Linked DNA regions of Homo sapiens: all the other regions are linked to region 1. The links come from fine-mapping of genetic effects on gene expression. A gene starts in region 1. Each other region holds a variant in brackets. All regions are shown on one strand. Distances are between the middles of the regions.

The links.
Region 2: its variant is fine-mapped to the expression of SLIT1 in whole blood (INTERVAL, PIP above 0.99).
Region 3: its variant is fine-mapped to the expression of SLIT1 in tibial nerve (GTEx, PIP above 0.99).
Region 4: its variant is fine-mapped to the expression of SLIT1 in lung (TOPMed, PIP above 0.99).
Region 5: its variant is fine-mapped to the expression of SLIT1 in prostate (GTEx, PIP above 0.99).

Annotation. Positions count from the first base shown.
Region 1 is chr10:97,183,488-97,187,604 of GRCh38, reverse strand. It overlaps SLIT1 (slit guidance ligand 1), which reads left to right and starts at 1,646. Exons shown (of 37, transcript NM_003061.3): 1 at 1,646-2,127. The coding sequence starts at 1,931. All of the region lies in intron 11 of ARHGAP19-SLIT1 (ARHGAP19-SLIT1 readthrough (NMD candidate)), which reads left to right. RefSeq lists enhancers at 801-1,301, 1,302-1,802.
Region 2 is chr10:97,246,872-97,250,988 of GRCh38, reverse strand. The region is part of intron 6 of ARHGAP19 (Rho GTPase activating protein 19); the gene reads left to right. The region is part of intron 6 of ARHGAP19-SLIT1 (ARHGAP19-SLIT1 readthrough (NMD candidate)); the gene reads left to right. Among named protein-coding and RNA genes, the nearest start is that of ARHGAP19, 44 kb to the left of the region's middle. The variant A/G (reference allele first, on the strand shown) is at 1,795.
Region 3 is chr10:97,224,261-97,228,377 of GRCh38, reverse strand. ARHGAP19 (Rho GTPase activating protein 19) reads left to right here. Exons shown (of 12, transcript NM_032900.6): 12 at 2,246-4,117. The coding sequence ends at 2,256. All of the region lies in intron 11 of ARHGAP19-SLIT1 (ARHGAP19-SLIT1 readthrough (NMD candidate)), which reads left to right. All of the region lies in intron 2 of LOC105378447 (a long non-coding RNA gene), which reads right to left. Among named protein-coding and RNA genes, the nearest start is that of SLIT1, 40 kb to the right of the region's middle. The variant A/G (reference allele first, on the strand shown) is at 1,663.
Region 4 is chr10:97,035,888-97,040,004 of GRCh38, reverse strand. It overlaps SLIT1 (slit guidance ligand 1), which reads left to right. Exons shown (of 37, transcript NM_003061.3): 21 at 1-17; 22 at 2,239-2,307. Among named protein-coding and RNA genes, the nearest start is that of SLIT1-AS1, 65 kb to the left of the region's middle. RefSeq lists an enhancer at 1,423-1,923. The variant G/A (reference allele first, on the strand shown) is at 1,992.
Region 5 is chr10:96,767,509-96,771,625 of GRCh38, reverse strand. No RefSeq gene overlaps it. Among named protein-coding and RNA genes, the nearest start is that of PIK3AP1, 49 kb to the right of the region's middle. The variant A/G (reference allele first, on the strand shown) is at 2,003.

The DNA of each region.
Region 1 (4,117 bases):
CCTCTCAGACTCCGGCCTGGTTTGTGGGAAGCTTCCCTAATATCCCACCACACAGGCACCCCTGAGAAAGCCCTGCCCCCTGAGAAACTGAACTTATGCTCAAGAACCCACTTACCGGATGGAGGTCATGGACAGGGATGTGTGAAAACTTTAAAAGAACTGTCAAAAGCCCATAAAATCAGCCACCTAAATTGTAACATACTGTGCTATGACAGTAGAGAGACTGCAAAATTCTCATCAACATGGAAAAGAAAAGCAAAGAAAACGCCTGAGCCTTGGGTACCTGGTGGGTGATAAGGCTTCAACCTTGTGGAGTCTATCAACCTCCCCTATCCCCACCCTGCCCGACACTCTCCCCACCAAATGCGTCCATGCTGTGTCTGGACCCAGGCCGCTCCTGAGACGGGAGGTGCTTCTCGGGCTACCCAGCTGTGTCCTCTTGCCAAGCAGCCTCACGTCAAGGCCCCGACTGCTGGACACTGCCCCAGCGAGCCACAGCTGTCCTTGGCGTTGAGGAGATCTTTCGTCTTTTCTGGGGTTGAGGAGAATTCTCTCCCCACCTGGATGTCCCGTTCACACCCACGTCCACACATGCCTTACGGTGACGAAGGTCCCTACCCAGCCGGGTGTGAGGCCTGGGTCTGACGGGGCTGGCCTGTGGGGTTCTCTCCCAAGCAGGCCGCCCAGCGCTATGCCAGCCCTCTCTGTCTCCTTTGATGTCAAGATGGAATATTCATTTTCATCTGTTTCCACCTGTCAGAAATGGAGGAACGCTGGTGTGAGTGGAGGAAGACGTTTGCCAGATTTCCAAGTCCCCTTAATGTCTGTCCCTCTCTTCTACAACGGGGGAAGAAGCCCGTGTAACTGTATGGTACAAATACGCCCTGCTGAGCAAGTGTTCCAATCAGAGCCATTCTCATCCTGGGCATGCGGCTAGCTTGTTCCCCTCTGAGAAGTGGGTGCATTGAGGTAGGAAGGAGACTGTACTCCGCCTAGCGCTTTCGTGGACCCTCCCCCCCGACAAAGCTCCATCCTCAAAGTCCAGGCTAAGTAAGGTTGGTGGCTTGAGGATGCTACCTGGGGCACAGGCACAGGGTTTCCCTTAACCAAGAATTGACACAGCGAGTCGGGTGGGGCCGAGAGGCCGCTGCTGCCGTCGGGGGATGGGGGGAAACGGGTCTGACTCCCCGGGAAGGCGTCCAAGCGGCAAAATAAGATCTCCCTCCCACCCTGGACTAGCAGCTGGGGCCGCGGGTGCCGGGGTGCGTGCGTCTAAATGTGCGCATCCTCGCCGTGTGTGTGTGTGTGTGTGTGTGTGTGTGTGTGTGTGTGTGTGTACAGCCAGGACTTGGCGGGTCGAGTCACACCCCCTTCCCTCTTCTCCCATCCCCCGCAGCCCCGTGCCCGCTGACGGCGCCTCGGAGGTTCCACCTTTGAAACTGTAGGCGGCTTGCAGCCGCTGAGTGGTCGTCGGGAGAGGGGGGCTGCGGCGGGGGAGGGCGGGGAGGAGCCTGGCCCTGGATGTGTGCTTTTCGATTGATGGATGACTGCCGGGTGGGAGCGAGCGCGCGGGTGTGTGTGTGATCGTGTGTGTGTGTGTGGTGTGTGCGCAGGGTGCGTGCGCGCGCGGGGCCTGCCCATTTTCCTCCTCGCAGCAGTCAGTTGGGAGCTGGAGGGAGGGAGAGGGAGACGCAGGCGGCGAAACGGCAGAGGAGCCGAGCCCCCTCCGCCCAAGGCGCCCTCCCTCCGTCCGCGCACAGGCGCCGTCGCTTGGAGGAGCAAGGTGCCTCCCAGCCCGCAGGGGCGCCGCGCGCAAGCCCGCGGGCTCTTCGGTGGCTCTGCCCCGGGACTGCACCTGGAGGCGGCCCCGGACGGGGATGGTCAGCGGCTGCTGCCGTCTGGCTCGCGAGCGGGACGCTGTGAGGGCACCATGGCGCTGACTCCCGGGTGGGGGTCCTCGGCGGGGCCGGTCCGGCCGGAGCTCTGGCTGCTGCTGTGGGCAGCCGCGTGGCGCCTGGGTGCCTCGGCGTGCCCCGCCCTCTGCACCTGCACCGGAACCACGGTGGACTGCCACGGCACGGGGCTGCAGGCCATTCCCAAGAATATACCTCGGAACACCGAGCGCCTGTGAGTATGGTCCCCGCCCCTGGCTCCCTGGCTCCGAGGTTGCCCTCCCACCCAGACGCAATTCCGGACTTGGGGGTGGGGGCAGGACCATTGGGGCCCGTCCGGGCTCCGCAGCCCACAGACGGGTCAGTGCCTGCCGGGGTCTTTCCCGAGCCAGGAGCCAGGAGCGCCGTGGTTTCCCCATCCCTGGGATTCAAAGGGCCCTCGGCGGGGTTGTCAGCTTCCGTCCTCACACCTGCACCCTGCACCCTGCACTCCGCACCCTCAGGCCCTCCTCACTGCGCCAGCGCTTTATTCCTCCAGGGTGCCTGCGAACTGGTGTCAGAAAGCCTTCCTTGCACCCAGGAGGGACACTTCCCACACTCGCCAAGCACAATGTCTCCTTTTGGGCACATGGGGCTACGGCCGCGTTCTGAGCCAGCTGCGCAGATTCCCGCTCCCAGAGCTTGCTCCTGACGAAGGGCAGCAGGGTGGGATGGAGGCGAAGTTTCTGGTCTGCCCCTTCTTCTCCATTGTTTGCCCCAGAGCCTTGAGAATTCTTCCCCTGCAGGTGCCACGCGTTGGTCCCCTACTCACCCGCCTCCCTCCACACCCAGCCATCCCCAACACAGGCAGACAATGGGACCTGAGGGCTTTGGGTATGGGGCTTGGGGTATGTAACATTCAGCACCCGAAAAGGGGCAGGTGTGTCTTGGATGGAGAACCCGGTGGATAATGCCAAGAAGTCAGGAGCTTGGAGAGGGGGGCCCAAGGTTAAAGATATTGACCATGACAAGTAATAAAAAAATAGCATTTCTCTTCCCCTGTTCTGTCTCACTTGTGAATTCTTGAGGAAACTTGATCCTTTTCTTTTCTAGACCCAGTAAGCTAGTAGAATGTGTGTGTGTGTGTTTGGGTGTGTTTGAGTGTGTGTATTTACAGACCTTTATACTTTGTTTTCTGTGACTCTCCTGCAGAATGTGTTTCTGTGTGAATTCCTAGTATTAAGGGGCCACCTTAATAGCGTGAGGCCATGAGAGTCCCCGTAATGGGCTGTGTGTGTGTAGATTTTGGTCACATGCAGGGCCTTTGTACTGCTCGCAGAGGTGACTACACCAGGAGATTTTTGAACAGGGCTTTGGAGAAGGCTGCTGGCTCCTTTGAAACCTACCTACTCCTCCTTCCCACACTCCTCGGTGACTGCAGTGGCTCTCAGGAAAGGTGTGCATATTTTGATAACTTTCGAGCACATTTTCATGGCCCCCAGCTGGTCAGAGACAGAAATCTGACCCTGAGGAGAGCTGTCTCCCGAATCAGACTCTGTACCAAGGCCAGCAATTAGTGAGCACACATTTGCCCCAGACTCTTCTTGGCTGCATCTGAAAAATTCCCGTGGAGGTTTTAGAGAATTTGCAATCTAGATGCAATCTAGATGGGAAGTGTGTGTGTGTGTGTGTGTGTGTGTGTGTGTGTGTGTGTGGTGCATGTGTATGTGTGTGTGTGAATGCTTGTGTGTTACAGGGCTGGGGAGAGGTGGTACCAAACTGAGTTTCTGTGGGCAGCGTGTGCATTATCCTGTGTGGACCCAGAGAGGATCTGAGGGTCAGAAATCTGTCCAGAGGACCCCCGCAGTGGCCTGGTCACCCTCCATGCCTGTCCCCTCTGTACCTGCTCCCTGCTCCCCTTGCCTTGTCCACTGGAGTTTCTCCTGAAGCTGCTACCCTGGTTGCAGCCTAGATCTAAGACACATTAGCCCTTCTTCTTTGCTTTTGAATCTTGAGTCTTAAAGTCATCTCCTCCCTCTTTACTCTCTCACCACCTTTAGTGTTTAAGACTTCCATGAACTCTTTAGCTCTTTTGTGATCAGAGTGAGATGAAAATGAAATTTCCTAGTACAGAGGAAAGAGGTGGCATTCTGGGAGCTATACTGCCTGGTTCCCCAGCTCTGTCACCTATTAGCTGTGTGACCTTGGGCAAGTTACTTAACTTCTCTGAACCTTAGTTGCTTTCC
Region 2 (4,117 bases), 63 kb before region 1:
CAGGCTCAAGCGATCCTCCCACCTCAGATTCCCAAGCAGCTGGGACAGGTGCGTGCCACCATGCCTGGCTAATTTTTCTATTATTTGTGGTGACAGGGTACTACCATGTTGCCCAGGCTGGTGTTGAACTCCTGGGCTCAAGCATTTCTCCTGCCTTGGCCTCCCAAAGTGTTGGGATTACAGGCATGAGCCACCGCTCTTGGCCTTCTTTCTTTTTTTTAAATGAAATAGAATAGATATATTCTTGTTTGGAGAAAATTTCTGTTGGTCTTAAGCTCCGTTTTATAGTTTTTCAATTTAGAAATTAAACTGGCTGGGCGTGGTGGCTCACTCCTGTAATCCCAGCACTTTGGGAGGCCAAGGCAGGTGGATCACCTGAGGTCAGGAGTTCAAGACCAGCCTAGTCAACACGGTGAAACCCCATCTCTACTACAAAAATTAGCCGGGCGTGGTGGTGGGCGCCTGTAGTCTCAGCTACTTGGAGGCTGAGGCAGGAGAATCACTTGAACCCGGGAGGCAAAGGTTGTGGTGAGCCAAGATTGCGCCATTGCACTCCAGCCTGGCGACAGAGCGAGACTCCATCTCAAAAAAAAAAAAAGAAAAAGAAATTAAACTATACATATCATGTTTTTGTCATGAGACTCTTTGAAGACCTTTATTTTGAAAAATTTCAAATATAGAGAAAAGTTAAAAGAGTAAAACAGTGAATACTCATATATAACTCTCCCCCAGTGTCAACAAATGTTATCATATTGCCATATTAGCTTTATCTCTCTCTATATATGTTCATACACTTTTTTGGCTGAATCACTAAAAGTAGTTGCAGACACCATGATACTTCATTCCTAAGTACTTATGTATGCATCTCCCAATAATAAACATATTCTCTTAAGAATCACACTACTGGCCGGGTGCGGTGGCTCACGCCTGTAATCCCAGCACTTTGGGAGGCTGAGGCGGGCGGATCATGAGGTCAGGAGATCGAGACCATCCTGGCTAACACGGTGAAACCCCGTCTCTACTAAAAATACAAAAAATTAGCCAGGCGCGGTGGCAGGCCCCTGGGAGAGGCTGAGGCAGGAGAATGGCGTGAACCCGGGAGGTGGAGCTTTCAGTGAGCTGAGATTATGCCACTGCACTCCAGCCTGGGCGACAGAGCCAGACTCCGTCTCAAAAAAAAAAAAAAAAAAAGAATCACACTACTATTATCACATCTAAGAAACTAAAAAGAATTTCTTATCAACTAGCTTTCAGTACATATTCAAATTCCCCAGCTGTCCTAAGAATGTATTTCATACTTTTTTTCAATATAGGCCAATCAAAGCTTCTGTACTGGTTTTAATTATTATGACACTTTTAATCTACACACTCATGCTTTTTCTTCATGTCATTTATTGAAGCATCAAGTTAACTGTGTTGTAGAATGTCTCACATTCTAAGTTTGTCTTATTGTTTTCTCAAGTTATTTAACTTGTTCCTCTATCACCTTCCATGTAGTTCCTGTAAAGTAGAAGCCAGGTCTACAGTCTTAATCAGATTCAGATTAAGCATTTTTGGCAAAGATACTTCACAGGTGATGTTTGTGTGCGTCACATTGCCTCACATGAGGAGACACAGATTGTTTGATTTTCTCTCTTCATGATGTTAATTTTGCTAACTGCCAGATCTTTCAGTTACAAAGGTAAATTTTTTTCCCCTTTGCGGTTAGTAAATAACCTGTAGAGTGATTACCTAATAATGGTTTTAGCATCCGTTGATAATCCTGCTGGAATCTATTGGGTATTAAAAATAAAG[A/G]TTTTCTAATTTTGTCATTTAGCCTTTATAAGCTGAGTTTCTTCTTTGGAGAATAGCTTTTCTTTGTCTCATTCTCTCTCCCTTTAAAAATGAATATTAATATAAACTCATGGATTTTTATTTTTCCAAAGTGTTAGTCAATTTTACTTATAATGTTGATATTCTCCTGGGCAATGTGGCAAAACCCCATCTCTATGAAAAATACAAAAAATTAGCCGGGCGTGATGGCACACTCCTGTGGTCCCAGCTACTCAGAGGCTACGGTGGTAGGATGGCTTGAGCCCGGGAGGTGGAGGTTGCACTGAGCCGAGATTATGCCACTGCACTCCAGCCTGGGTGACAGAGTGAGACCCTGTCACAAACAAACAAACAAACAAAATTGATATTTAAATTATCCCAGATTTGGCCGGTGATAGCCCTTGTTAACCGGCTTCTACATCTTTTTGACAGGACTGTATTGTCTTTGAGTGTTTCCTTTCTGGTATAAAATGTTCCCAGCTCACTTTGTACTTGCGCTGGCCTAGATCGGAGTAATTATTTCTCCAGGGAACCTTGGCTTCTGAGTGATACTAGGTATATTCATTGTTTCTGGTGTGTCATTGCTTCTAGGCTGCTTGAGGGCAAAGAAATAGATTAAAACATTTTTTTAAAGCAATTGTAAGTTCATATTAATACCACCAATTCAGATTTAATACTACGCAACTTTTTCTTGGCTTCTTGTATTTTGTATTTGTATTTCTTTTTTTCTTATATTACAAATTTCAGATTTTTTTTTTCTTGTTTTGGAGATTTTCACTCTGTCACCCAGGCTGGAGTGCAGTAGCACGATCTGGGCTCACAGCAGCCTCTGCCTCCTGGGACCAGTCGATCCTCCCACCTCAGCCTCTCGAGTAGCTGGGTCTACAGGTGAGCGCCACCACACCCGGCTAATTTTTGTATTTTTTGTAGAGATGGGTCTCACCATGTTGCCCAGGCTGGTCTCAAACTCCTGGGCTCAAGTGATCTACCCGCTTTGGCCTCCCAAAGGCGGGGTGAAACCCCGTCTCTACAAAAGTACAAAAATTAGCCGGGCATGATGGTGGGTGCTTGTAATCCCAGCTACTTGGGAGGCTGAGGCGGAAGAATCACTTGAACCTGGGAGGCGGAGGTTGCAGTGAGCCGAGATCATGCCATTGCACTCCAACCTGGGCGAGAGAGTGAGACTCCGTCTCAAAAAAAAAAAAAAAAAGTCAAAACCACATTAAAAGATATACTTAGAGAAATCTCAATCCTTTCTAATTATTTTCATTGTTTTCTGGGTTATCCTGTTAGTGTTTCTTTTTATAAAAACAAGTAAATGTACATTTGTGTGTATATTCCTATTTCCTGGTTTTTTCTTACACAAATATACATTTACTTCACTTTTCTCACTCAACAGTAGATCCTAGAAATCCTTCCATATCAATTCATTAAGTGTTTCTTCCTTCTCTCCATCCTTTCTTTTTCTCTCCCTCCCTTCCTTTCCTTTCTTTCCCTCTGTTCCTTCCTTTCTTTCCCTCCCTGCCTCCTCTCCCTTCCTTTCTTCATAGTACTGTATTGTATGGATGTATGAAAGTTGATTCAACCAGTTCTCTATTAAAGAACATTTGGGTTGTATCCAATTTTTTGATTAATCTTATACGAGTGTGTTTTGCATTTCTGAAGTTACATACTCAGGATATGTTACCAGTAGTGAGGTTTCTGGGTAAAAGGGTAAGTGCAAATGTAATTTTATTAGATGTTACAAACCCAGTTTTCCTCTATGGTAGTTGTATTATTTTGCACATCTACTAAGACAGTATCAGGGTAGTTGTCACAGGATTCTAGTCCATAGTAATTCTAAATGGTATTTCTTTCTTTCTTTTTTGAGACAGGGTCTTGCTCTGTTGCCTAGGCTGGAGTGCAGTGGTATGAACATGGCTCACTGCAGCCTTGAACTTCTGGGCTCAAGTGATTCTCCCCCTTAGCCTTCTGAGTAGCTGGGACCACAGGCATGCACCACCATGCCCGGCTAATTTTTTTGTAATTTTTTTTTTTTTGAGATGGAGTTTCGCTCTTGTTGCCCAGGCTGGAGTGCAATGGTGTGATCTTGGCACACTGCAACCTCTGTCTCCTGGGTTCAAGCGATTCTCCTGCCTCAGTCTCCTGAGTACCTGGGATTACAGGCATACGCCACCACACCCGGCTAATTTTGTATTTTTAGTAGAGATGGGGTTTCACCATGTTGGTCAGGCTGGTCTCGAACTCCTGACTTCAGGTGATCCACCCACCTTGGCCTCCCATAGTGCTGGGATTACAGGCATGA
Region 3 (4,117 bases), 41 kb before region 1:
CATTAACAAGTGGTTATAGTTGTTACTGTAGAAAACGGGCTGAAACCTGGTCTTGTTATATAAGGCTCATGTGGCAGCTGAAGTGAGTCTGGTTTGACATGATTGTTTTATCACTGGGATATGAGCATAATTACTATTTGAGACATCAGCAATAGGCAGAGATCAAAAGCCTAATCCTTATGGATAAATTCTTTTCTGGAAAATTAGATTTCAGTATATTCTTCTTACTTATCCTTGAATGAATTATCTAAACTCTCTTTTCTTTCCTCGTTGCTTCTGTCTTCCAGGCTGGGCTGTCTAATTGAGACAAGATGGGGGTTTGAGTTTTTTGTGTCTAAATATTTCTGTATGTCCATGAATCAAAACCAAGCATAAGTTATTTTTGAAGGCTACATTGTTTTGTATCAGTTACAACTTTTGTTGCTGTCATTTTTGAAAGACATGCGGAAATAATACCTTTCTGTATTGACAGCTCTACCTTGGAAAGAAAGAAAGACGTTTTTTAAAAACCAGTCTAATATTTCACCAATAAGCTTTAGAGCAGGGATTGTTGACCTTGTCATCTGTGGACTTCCTAAATGGTCTAATAAAGTTCCCGGTATTGTTGATGCAATCTTTTGTGTAGGTACATATGTGTATTTTTCTGGGGGAGAGAATATATGGTTCTAATTAGATTCTCAAAAATGTTAGTAGTTCAGAGAAGTCGAGATAATGAATGACCCTCAATTGGATCAGGCAATGGCATTTTCACTTTACTCTCTCCTGGTCACTTCCTCTATCTGGAAATGCCTTCCTGGTGTTATGATGCTACATTATTCTCGTTCTTCTTCCTCTTTAATTCTTTTCCTTATCTGCAGTGGCTTACTGTTGTTTGCCTATTCCACTACATCTTTATTTTTTTCAATGCTCTATCTTAAGTTCTGCTCTTAAGTTCTGTTCGTTTCTGCACCTGCTTCTCCTGCCTCTTTGCAGCTTGGTCTCCTTCCACTGCTCAGCTCTGCTCTCTGTATGATAACTACTTCCAGCCTGGCAATGCCAGGTCTGAACTCTCTTCAGACATTGGCAGTCTCCAAGCCCACAGATCCAGGTGCCTGCCATGTATTTCTTTTATACAACAATGAATATACAACCTCAGATTTTTTGATAGTGATGTTTATAATAAAAGTAACATATTCTTTGAAGAAGATAATGTAATTTTATTACTGTGATCAACAACATAATCCAAAAAGACTATTATTTAGTACAGGATTTCTCAACCTTGGCACACTACTGACATGTTGGTTCAGATAATGCTTTGTTGTAGGAGCTGCCATGTGCACTGTATGATGAGCAGCCTTCCTGGCCTTTACCCCATCGATGCTGGGAGCATCCTTCCCCCAGTTGTGATAAGTAAAAGTGCTTCTAGACATTGCCAAATGTCCCATGGTGGGTGAGGAGGCAAAGTCATCTCCACATGAGAACCACTGATTTAGCACCTACTTATTATGGCCATTATTTTCAGTAGTCAAAATCTTACCCATTCTTCAAAGTCTAGCCTAAATCTCACCTCCTCTTTGAAACTTTCTCTGGCTAACACAGCCAAATATAATACTTTTTCCTTTGAACTTATTAATGCTACAAAAATATTGACACTTAGTATGATTTACTGTATTTACTTCACAT[A/G]TTGTCTTATCTCTGTAACTAGTTTTTCTTCTAGAAGACAAAGGTCAGACTTAGTGTATTTGTGGCCTTCTGTCTCCTGTTCTTCTCATCTTCCGAAAAATGACAGTGCCTTGTGCTGAGTCGGCTTTTAGTAAACATTGAGTGTTGAGAGGGGCGGTGGTGGTAGGAGCATGAGTTCTGCATTCAGCTGGGCTTGGGTTCCATTCCCAGTTTTGCTGCTTAATAGCTTATATATTAGTCCTCGGGCAAATGAACTATGTAGGCTGCAGATTCTTACTCTGTAAAATGGTAGGAGTAGTACCTCATATACTGGTTATTGTGAGGATAAATAATGTACATAAATAACTTAGAGCAGCACAAAATATGTACTTACTGTTAGCTGTTACGGCCATTAAGATGATTTAATGAACGAGATTATATCAGGCAGATGTTTATTTGGTAGAGTCACACATTCTTAATTAAACTCATTAGCCTTCAGTTTGGAGAAAATATTAAGTGTAGACCCTGTAGCTTTTGAGTGGGATGTTTGCAAAAAGAAATATTTAAGAACATGTCTAACGCTCTTGTTTTTCCTTCAACCTAGGATTTCTCTGAAGGATCCAGAGTTGTCTCCTATGGTCCATGCAGAATTTTCTGTTTAGTGGGCAGGTGTTATTCCTGCCCACAGCAAAGCTTGGACTTGCAGCTTGCTTGCTGCATTTTGAATTGTCAAAGCCAACTAATACCGTGACCCGACTGATACCTCTAACCCCACTCACTGGATGATGTTTGCAAGCTGTGCCTTCTGAGAGAGTGCTTAGGCCCTGTCTCTCTTTTTTAATATTATGGGGAAACCACTAACTATCCAACCAGCTTATACAGCACACTAAGGTGGGCTTCAGTGCTCACTCAATGTGTTTAGGCAGATTCCACTTTTGAAAAAAAATATGAAATGTGTGCTCAACTGCCAGTAATTTTTTAAAAAGCACTGTCCCAGTGGATTGATGTTGTTTTTAATGGATATTTTGGGTTTTTCTCTGTTTTGATAGTATTGGGTATTTGGTTGTTTTTGTTTGTTTATTTCTTTGTTTTAAAAGCCATGTTTTTGGTTGGGCTCTAAGCTAGATATCTTTCCCTCTTTTTCACTTTGAGCTTTGGGAAAACTCTTTATCTTATGAGGCTGTATTCCTCAATACCTAATTTGTGTCCAAAGAATTTATAGCTTTTCTGGACATTTTTTATTATTTCTTGGGTGTGACATCAGAGTATTTGACCTGCAGTATTGAAAAAGGAGAATTCAGAATGATACAGTATTTTAACAAATCTTAATTATTAAACTCTTTTCCTTCCTTCCATTTCTCCCTCCCTTGTCCATCTCTCTCTCTCTTTCCCTTTCCTCAGTGATGTGAAAATAATTGTGTTTTGCTGAACTTGTTATCTTCATTCAATTTCCTCTTGACTAAAACATCTCTGGTGCCAACGTAATACTTCTGAACCAAATCACTGTGACTCAAGGAAAGTCACTGACAGCATAAGAGAAGTTTGCTAAAATATTTGTATGTGGGGGAAGCTCTGGAGTGTGCCTAGGAGGGGGCTGGCTGCCTTTATGTCCCAGGATGACTCTTTATGGGTGGGATTACATTGCACCCTCTGAGGGTGCAGGCTAGACCGTCTCCTGAGAGGAAGTTAGGATCAGAAAGAAGAAGCAAGCAGCAACCTCTGCAGGGCTGACAGGATTTAAAGGAGAGAATGTTCTTATTTGGAAGCAGCTGTGGCTTGTCACCAATGTTCAAGGAGTGTTACTGTTCCGCCCTCTCTTTGTCAGAAGGGACACAGGTGGTAATTTGGAGATGGGGCCAGAGCTTCTGGCTTTTGGATTTGGTGTGTTCACTTGTGTTGGATAGAGCAGTGGCATGGCTTTGACCTAGTATGAACTGGTGTCTGCCCAGAGAGCAGCATGTAGCAGGGGGGAATGCTCAGGTTTGTGCCTGGCTCTGTGGAGCTGTACAACCCTTCTCACCCTGTGGGTTGGAGCCGAGTCAGGCCACTATGGGGAAGCAGTTGCCCCACAAAATGTGGTTTGCTGACCTATTTCTAAACTGTTGAATATGCTGCACCATTGCTGAAATGAAAGATGACTCTGGGGGAGCAGAGCTTGGCCTTGTGCCCAGCTGGCAGCCCCCTCTGCCAGCCTTTCTGCTGCTTTTGCTGCTGTAACAGCAATAGTGGAGAAAAATGTAAAATTTGGTCTTCCAGCTTAATGCAGTGTGAACAATAGATGGTTAGGAAAACAAAACTGCTTAGAAGCCCCTTTCTCTAGAGCAGTTTTATGTCATTTGTAAAAACACATATTAGCAAATTCGTTTGCGTAGGTTTCTATTAAATATTTGACTTTTTTTTTCTTATTAAGAAAATGAAATCCCTTACACCAGATATCAGTTAATTCAAACAGAAAACCCTTTGGGTATCACCAAAT
Region 4 (4,117 bases), 150 kb after region 1:
AAGAATGTCACAGAACTGTGAGTAGCTCAAGGCCTTGCCCCCTTCACGTGGGTCCACAGGACGGGGACAGTGGGGGCATTTCCTGAGGGGCTGGGGCCTAGCCATGGGAGGAGGAGGTGACCAAGAGCAGGCATTAGCTGACTAGGAGCTGGAGTTCGGGCTTTGCAGAAAACACTGCCTCCAGAAAGGCTTTGAGCTTCTCTCTGATTCTCCCTCTGCGGTCACCTGATGACCGCATGGCAGCGAGTGCTTCCTCCCTTTAAACTAAGCTCCGCCTTTAAAATGAGGAGAACCTTGCTTTCCCGCCTGTCATTGTCTCAGGCTCCTGTGTCATGAAGACACAAATGTGATTTTTGCACCAGCAGTGTAGTGTTCTTCACATGAATCTACTATGACCCAGATAACAAAACCCCTTTTGTTGGATATTTGTTTCCAATTTTTTTTTACTGTCATAAACAGCACCAGTGCTAACACCCCCTCACTGAAATCGCCAGTCAGAGAGCGGTGCGTTTTTAGGACTCTTGCTGCCTTTTGCCTGATGGTCTTCCAAGAAAATCTGTTTCCTTTGCACTCCCATTGACCATGTGAGAAGGTGGCCTTCTTGCTTCCCTGGGTCAGCACTGAGTATGGTGCTGAAATCCTGGCTGATTGGTATTTGGTATCTGAGCACATGTGGAGGATTGGACATAGATGCATTTGACAAACAGGAATGGAGAGCTGGGACTTCTTCAGCAGACACCTCCCAATGAAAGACTCTGGCCAGCTCCTGACCTCTGACCTCTTCCTGTGCTCTGGGGTTGATCCCTCCAGGCCTCCAAAGCTGAGCTTTTCTCCCCCCACCCCCAGGACCAGCGATGAGGCTTCTATTTGTTATTTCTTGCATTACCAGCAAGGCTGGCCTTTTCTTCACAAGCACATCAACCACTGCGGGCCTTTTCCTGGGCCTGGCCTGCCCCGTCTTCACCCTGTTTTCTACTGCAGAGTTAGTGTCCTACAAACCTCATGAGTCCTTGCTTTCTCCTTGGAGCCTCCTAGCAGCCCTGAGAATAATGGGATGGGTGGGGCAGCCTACCTTCTTTGACTGAAGATGGTGAAGTTCAGAGCCTGCGAAAATCTTTTAACTTCTCTAAACCTCAGTTTTGTCATCTGTGAAATGGGACTACTTGGGTATGTGGACGAGGACTGCCTCGAGGATCAAACGAGATGGGTGGGAAGTCAGTTTGTATGATGCAGAGCGAGGGGTAAGGATGAGCACAGCCCTCCTTTTGCTCCTCTCTGGGGCTTTGGGAAGTGGGGGAGAGCTGTCCTGCAGGCTGTAGTTAGTTGGGGGGTGGAGATCCTGTGCTGGAGCTCAGCTTGGCTCAGCTCCTGGCATTGGGCCACTGCTTAGCACCTTCAGGCTGGAGGCATGAATGGTCAACAATGAAGGGAAGAGGGGGAGGTTCAGAGCATCTTGAATCCCAAGCTCTATCCTGTAGAAATGGGAACCTTGGGAAGCTTCGGGCTTAGGAGGATTTCGGTGGGCTTGGTTTTAAGGACAGTGACTTGGATAGCAGTGAGTAGAGTGGAGGCCAGAAGGGAGGTCCAAGGTGCAGAGAACAGACAGAAGAGGCTGCAGCAGGAGCCCGGGCATGGGTGGTGGTGCACAGTCGGCGGGTGGCATGAGAGTGCAAGGAAAGCAAGCTGTGAGAGAGCAGCGGTGGCACTGGCTGCAGAGGGAGGAGGAGAAGCGACATCAGGGTGCGGAGCCTGGAAGGCAGGAAGGCAGAGGGGTGCTGATGGAATGAGGGGGAACTGGTTGGGCAGTCTGGCTGTGAATCAGCTTCACAGCCCATGCCAGCAGGTGGACAGGGGGCCCTGGGAGCTGGCAGGGCCCGGTAACGTGCAAATCAGATCTATTTGGCCAGGAAAGAGCAGAGCAGGGAGGGGAAGGCAGGGGCCCAGGGAGTGTCCATGGACAAGGAGGAGGCTGGGAGGGTGAGAAGGGAAGC[G/A]AGAAGGGAACCGAGAGAGGCCACGTGACTATTGGCTTTTTACCAAGTCCTCTGGGTGGCACCTCCCCAGATGGCTTCAACAACGTACATATTTTCTCCTCCCATAAGTGATTCTGGGCCCATCGTGTGGCCTATGTGGAGGAGAGGAAATGAGAGCGAAGTCCCTGGCTGCAGGGAAGGCTGTCCCCAGCATGGGGCACCACCAGAGGTGGAGATGGGCACTAACGCCGCTGTGTTCTCTCTGCAGCTATTTGGACGGGAACCAGTTCACGCTGGTTCCGGGACAGCTGTCTACCTTCAAGTACCTGCAGCTCGTGTAAGTATCCAGGCCGCTTGAGGACAGGAGGGCCTTTGGCATCTAACCATCAGGACTCCGGCTTTCCTGGAATTTCCTACGGACCTCACTTCTGGGCAGATCCTGCTTCTTTTCCTTTCCCTGCTCCCCTCTGGGAACAGCTGTGCCTAGAGCTGTTTTGCCACCTAGTGGCCACGATTGGCAATTACATAGTTCCAGGCCATGTTGGGTTGGACCTGCCTCCTCCTCCTGCCCACGCCGTCTCCCCAAAGCTCCCCCGTGAGGCTGGTCGTGACTGTTAAAAGGGTTATCCTGGTCGGGCGGGCACGGTGGCTCACACCTGTAATCCCAGCACTTTGGGAGGCTGAGGCGGACGGATAACCTCTCGAACTCATGTTGGAGTTCGAGACCAGCCTGATCAACATGGAGAAACCCCATCTTTCCTAAAAATACAAAATTAGCCGGGCATGGTGGCACATGCCTGTAATCCCAGCTACTCGGGAGGCTGAGGTAGGAGAATCGCTTGAACCCGGGAGGTGGAGGCTGCAGTGAGCCAAGATCGCACCATTGCACTCCAGCCTGGGCAACAAGAGCAAAACTCCGTCACACACACACACATACACACACACACACACACACACACACACACACACACACACACACACACACAAAGGGGGTTATTCTTGCAAGGTTAGGAGCCAAGGAGCCAGGAAAAGTGGAGGGTGATGGAAAGCTTCTCGGTCCAGCTCAGCTCTCAAACCAAGTATGAACTATGGCAGCTACAAATACATACCTGTAACTAAGTTTTTCTTCAGGCTACGCCTCTGCTTTTCTATTATTTCCACCTTTGACCCCTTCTACTCCATGAAAATATACAAAATAAGCCTCAGGATAATAAGTTCAGCTCCTTTTAGTTTTCTAGCCTACCTAGCTCCTCACTTCAATTGTCTTTATCTGCTCCTTGGCCAGATTCTACCAAAAAGAAGTCCAGAGAACATTCCACCTTAGTGTGATTTGGAGCAGTCCCACTCCAAGTGCAATCTACGGGCCCACATCAGTCCCAGAACTGTTTGTAATGGGTTTGTAATTAGATATGGCGCTTACACCAGAATCTAAATCAATGTATTGCTTCCTTTGTTGAGAAAGTCTTGCTATGGAAACAATGTTCGCGTAAACTAAGCTAGGTGTGGTGACCGGATCTTGGCCCAAGTTTCTTATTGTGGGTTGGTGAAATTTAGTTCAAGGACTGGCTACTTTGGGCGGCTCTGGCTTACAGAATTTTGAAGCTCCAATTTATCTGTCTTTGCTTAATGACCTGGCCAATGTGTGTTGAATGTTCCAATGGGAGGGGTGGAGAAGGGATGGAGTAGTGTGATTCAGTGGCTGGTGTCAGAGTGCTTTGAGCCAGTGAAACTGCCTCTTGGGGGCTGAAGTACCACCACCTCCTCATCACAGGGGAGGACCACAAAGTGTGTTGAACATTCAGTAGAGCACTTAAATGTATCTCCAAAGACAGTGGAATGATTTAGAATTAGATTAGAGGAACGTTCAGGAGGAGAAGATGAAGGCACGGCACATCGTTGCATTTTCTAAATGTTTCCTGAGCTGAGAGCGCATGAAGTGGGCAGACGTGAAGGCCCCGAAGTCATGGCCCCCTCTCCAGACTGTCATGGTTTAGGGAGGATGCAGGGGAGGGGAGGGAGCGCATAAAGTCGTGTGGGTGATAAGGGTTCCAACAGAGGTCAATGCTGATTAGGGCTGTGGCTCAAGGAGGATGTGATCAACTCAGGGAGGCGGCTTGCGGGGAGGGCATCTTGGAACACGAGCTGGA
Region 5 (4,117 bases), 420 kb after region 1:
ACCTCCTGGGTTCAAGCAATTCCTGCCTCAGCCTCCCAAGTAGCTGGGACTATAGGCATGTGCCACCACACCTGGCTACTTTTTGTATTTTTTTTTTTTTTTAGTAGAGATGGGGTTTCACCATATTGGCCAGGCTGGTCTCAAACTCCTGACCTCAAGTGATCCACTTGCTTTGGCCTCCCAAAGTGCTGGATTATAGGCATGAGCCACTGTACCCAACCAGGAAACAGTCTTTTTAAGCAGTGCTGGCTTACAAACTGCAGAAACCTTTTCAGTTTACACTTGTGTGGCAAAAATAACAGTTTTCATGGGAACCACTTCTCTTCATCTCTTTCTTTATTACACAAAAAGTTTTTTTTTTTAATTTGCATACAGTGAGATTGAAACTGCCTTTGCAAAAATTAAGATAGTGAGAGAAATGCAACACTGACTCCATCTTGCTTCTAACGTCACAAACTGTCATTGTTCATTCTTGGGGGTAGGCCAAACTGACTATGGTAGGGATTTAGCTTATACTTTAACTTTAAAACAAAGATGACAACAAGTGCTTCCCAAAATTAATGCACTCCTTGCTCAGGGATTGAAACCTCCTTTGTAAAACTAACAAGGTTAGAATTATGGTTCAGGAGTCATGTAGCTGGAGGTCACAAGGTTTGTAGCCTCCCCAGTTGCTCCTATAGACAACAGCACTATTGCAAAATATCAGATTGGTGTTTGAGGTATTTTTCAGACCTTACGTTCTGATGGACCAGCTGGCTCCACTTAGACCAGTAACCCATACCAAGAAACTAGCTCAGTTGGTCTTGTGACCCCCACCCAGGAACTGACTCAACACAAGAAGACAGCTTCATCCCCTATGATTTCATCGCTGACCCAATCAATCAGCACTCCTCATTCTCTAGCCCCCTGCCCACTGAGCTATCCATGAAAAACCCTACCCTCCAAATTCTTGATGAGGTGGATTTGAGAATTATCTCTCATCCTCCAGCTTGGCTAGCCCCACAATAAGCACACTCTTTCTTTCTTTCTTTTTTCTTTTTTCTTTTTTTTTTTTTTGAGAGGGACTCTTGCTCTGTTGCCCAGCCTGGAGTACAGTGGCACAATCTTGGCTCACTGCAACTGGGTTGCCTCCTGGGTTCAAATGATTCTCTTGCCTCAGCCTCCCGAGTAGCTGGGATTACAGGCACCCGCCACCACATCCAGCTAATTTTTTTGTATTTTTGGTAGAGATGGGGTTTCACCATGTTGGCCAGACTGATCTCTAACTTCTGACTTCAGGTTATACGCCTGCCTTGACCTCCCAAAGTGCTACTTGGGAGGCTGAGGTGGGCGGATCACTTGAACCCCGGAGGCGGAGGTTGCAGGGAGCTAAGATTGGGCCACTGCACTCCAGTCGGGGCAACAGAGTGAAACTCTATCTCAAACAACAACAAAACGGAAACTTATTGGCTGGGTGCAGTGGCTCACACCTATAATCCCAGCATACTGGGGAGGCCAAGGTAGATAGATCAATGAGCCCAGGAGTTTGAGACCAACATGGTGAAACCTTGTCTCTACAATAAATATAAAAATTAGCTGGGCATGGTAGTATGAACCTGTAGTCTCAGCTACTTAGGAGACTGAGGTGGGAGGATCACCTGAGCCCCAGGAGGTCAAGGTGGCAGTAAGCCATGAACGTGCCACTGCACTCCAGTCTGGAGGGCATGAAAAAAAAAAAAGAAATGGAAACATATTAATCCCAAACCAGTGTCAATAAGTTGGGGAAGAAGAGGAGCCATTGAAAAAGATTTTTTTTATTGTTTTATTTATTATTTTTTTTTGAGACAGAGTCTCTCTCTGTTACCTGGGTTGGAGTGCAGTGGTGTGATCTTGGCTCACTGTGACCTTTGCCTCCCGGGTTCAAGTGATTCTCCTTCCTCAGCTTCCCGAGTAGCTGGGATTACAGGCGCATGCTACCATGCCCAGCTTATTATTATTATTATTATTTGTATTTTTAGTAGAG[A/G]CAAGGTTTCACCATGTTGGCCAGGGTGGTCTTGAACTCCTGAGCTCAAGCAATCTGCCTGCTTTAGCCTCCCAAAGTGCTGGGATTACAGGCGTGAGCTACCTTGCCTGGCCCCTAGTCTTAACTTGTAATAGATACACAATAATTATTTTTAAATTAATTTTTTACAGTAATTATTAAATGAATGAATGAATAAACAAACACTTGAGGCACAGTCTGATGTATTAGAAAGAACGCAGGCTTGGAGTTGTATTAGCCTGTGTTGAATCTTGGCTTTTTGGTGTGTGGCCTTGGGTAAGCTACTTGACTTCAGTATCCATCCCAAAAATGGATTCATGGTTCCTCTCTCTTAGAATCATTAAATAAATGAAATGAAATTAAATTAATTAAATTAAATGGAACAATGCATATGCATACTTATGTCAAAGCTGGCATTCTTTTTCCTATGGGTGAGCATGTAAGGTAGCTCATATTAAGCCTAACTTCTACTATAAAAGGGGAAACCCCAAAATAGGACTCATAAAACCAATGCCAGAGACTAGAGCATAAATTCTATATTATTCTTTGGGGTGACTTCTGTTCCTCTGTGCTGCATTCTGGGAATTTTCTTCTGACCCCTGCTCCATTCACTGATTGATTTGACTGTAGCTAATAAAGTATAAACCCATCTGTTGAGGGTTTTTGTTTTGTTTTTTTGTTTTCTGAGACTGAGTCTCACTCTGCTTCCCAGGCTAGAGGGCAGTGGTGTGATCTCTGCAGACTGCAACCTCCGTCCCCTGGGTTCAAGCAGTTCTACTGCCTCAGCCTCCCAAGTAGCTGAGATTACAGGTACGCACTACCACACCTGGCTAATTTTTATAGTTTTAGTAGAGATGGGGTTTCACCATGTTGGCCAGGCTGGTCTGTAACTCCTGGCCTCAAGTGATTCACCCGCCTAGGCCTCCCAACCATCTGTTGAGTTTTAGGTTTTTATTATTATACTCATGTAATGTAGTAAATTACACATAATATGAAATGTATTTTTTTCTGAAAACATGTCAGTTTCATATAAAACTTATTTTAAAACCTTTAAAAGTGTATAGTTCTGTAGCATAAATATATTCACATTGTTGTGCAACCATCACATCCATCTATCTGCAGAACATTTCATTTTCCCAAGCTGAAACCCGGTACCCATTAAACCAGGGTACAGAGACCTGTATCAGTCCGTGGTCTGTTAGGAACCGCGTCACACAGCAGGAGGTGAGTGACGAGTGAGGGAGCAAACCTTCATCTGTATTTACAGCCGCTCCCAGTCATTTGCGTTACCACGTGAGCTCCGCCTCCTGTCAGATCAGCAGCGGTATTACATTCTCATAGAAGCATGAATTCTACTGTGAACTGCACATATGAGGGATCTAGGTTGCCCACTGTTGATGAGAATCTAATGCCTGATGATCTGTCACTGTCTCCCATCACCTCCGGATGGGACTGCCTAGTTGCAGGGAAACAAGCTCAGGGCTCCGAAGGATTCTACATTATGGTGAGTTGTATAATGATTTCATTATGTATTAGAATGTAATCATAACAGAAATAAAGTGCACAGTAAATGTAAGGCCCTTGAATCATCCCAAAAATATCTTCCCCTCCCATACCTGTCCATGGAAAAATTGTCTTCCACAAAACCAGTCCCTGGTGCCAAAAAGATTGAGGACTGCTGCATTAAACAATAACTCCTGATTCTCTTCCCCCAACCCCAGTCCTTAGTAACCATTGTTGCACTTCCTGTCTCTGTGAATTTTATTACTCTAGTTACCTCATATAAGTGGAATCATGCAATGTTTGTCCTTTTGCATCTGGCTTACTTCACCTAGCGTATCTCATCCATGGTTCATCCATGTTGTAGCATGTGTCAGAATGTCCTTCCTTTTAAAGGCTGACTCATATTACATTGTATGTATATCACGCATTTTGTTTATCCATTCATCAGTTGATGAACATTTGAGTATGTATATCACACTGTATATATATCTGTATGTATATCACACATTTTGTTTGTTCATCCATCAGTTGATGAACATTTCAGTTGTTTTCACCTTTCGGCTATTGTGAATAATACTGCTATGAACATGGGTG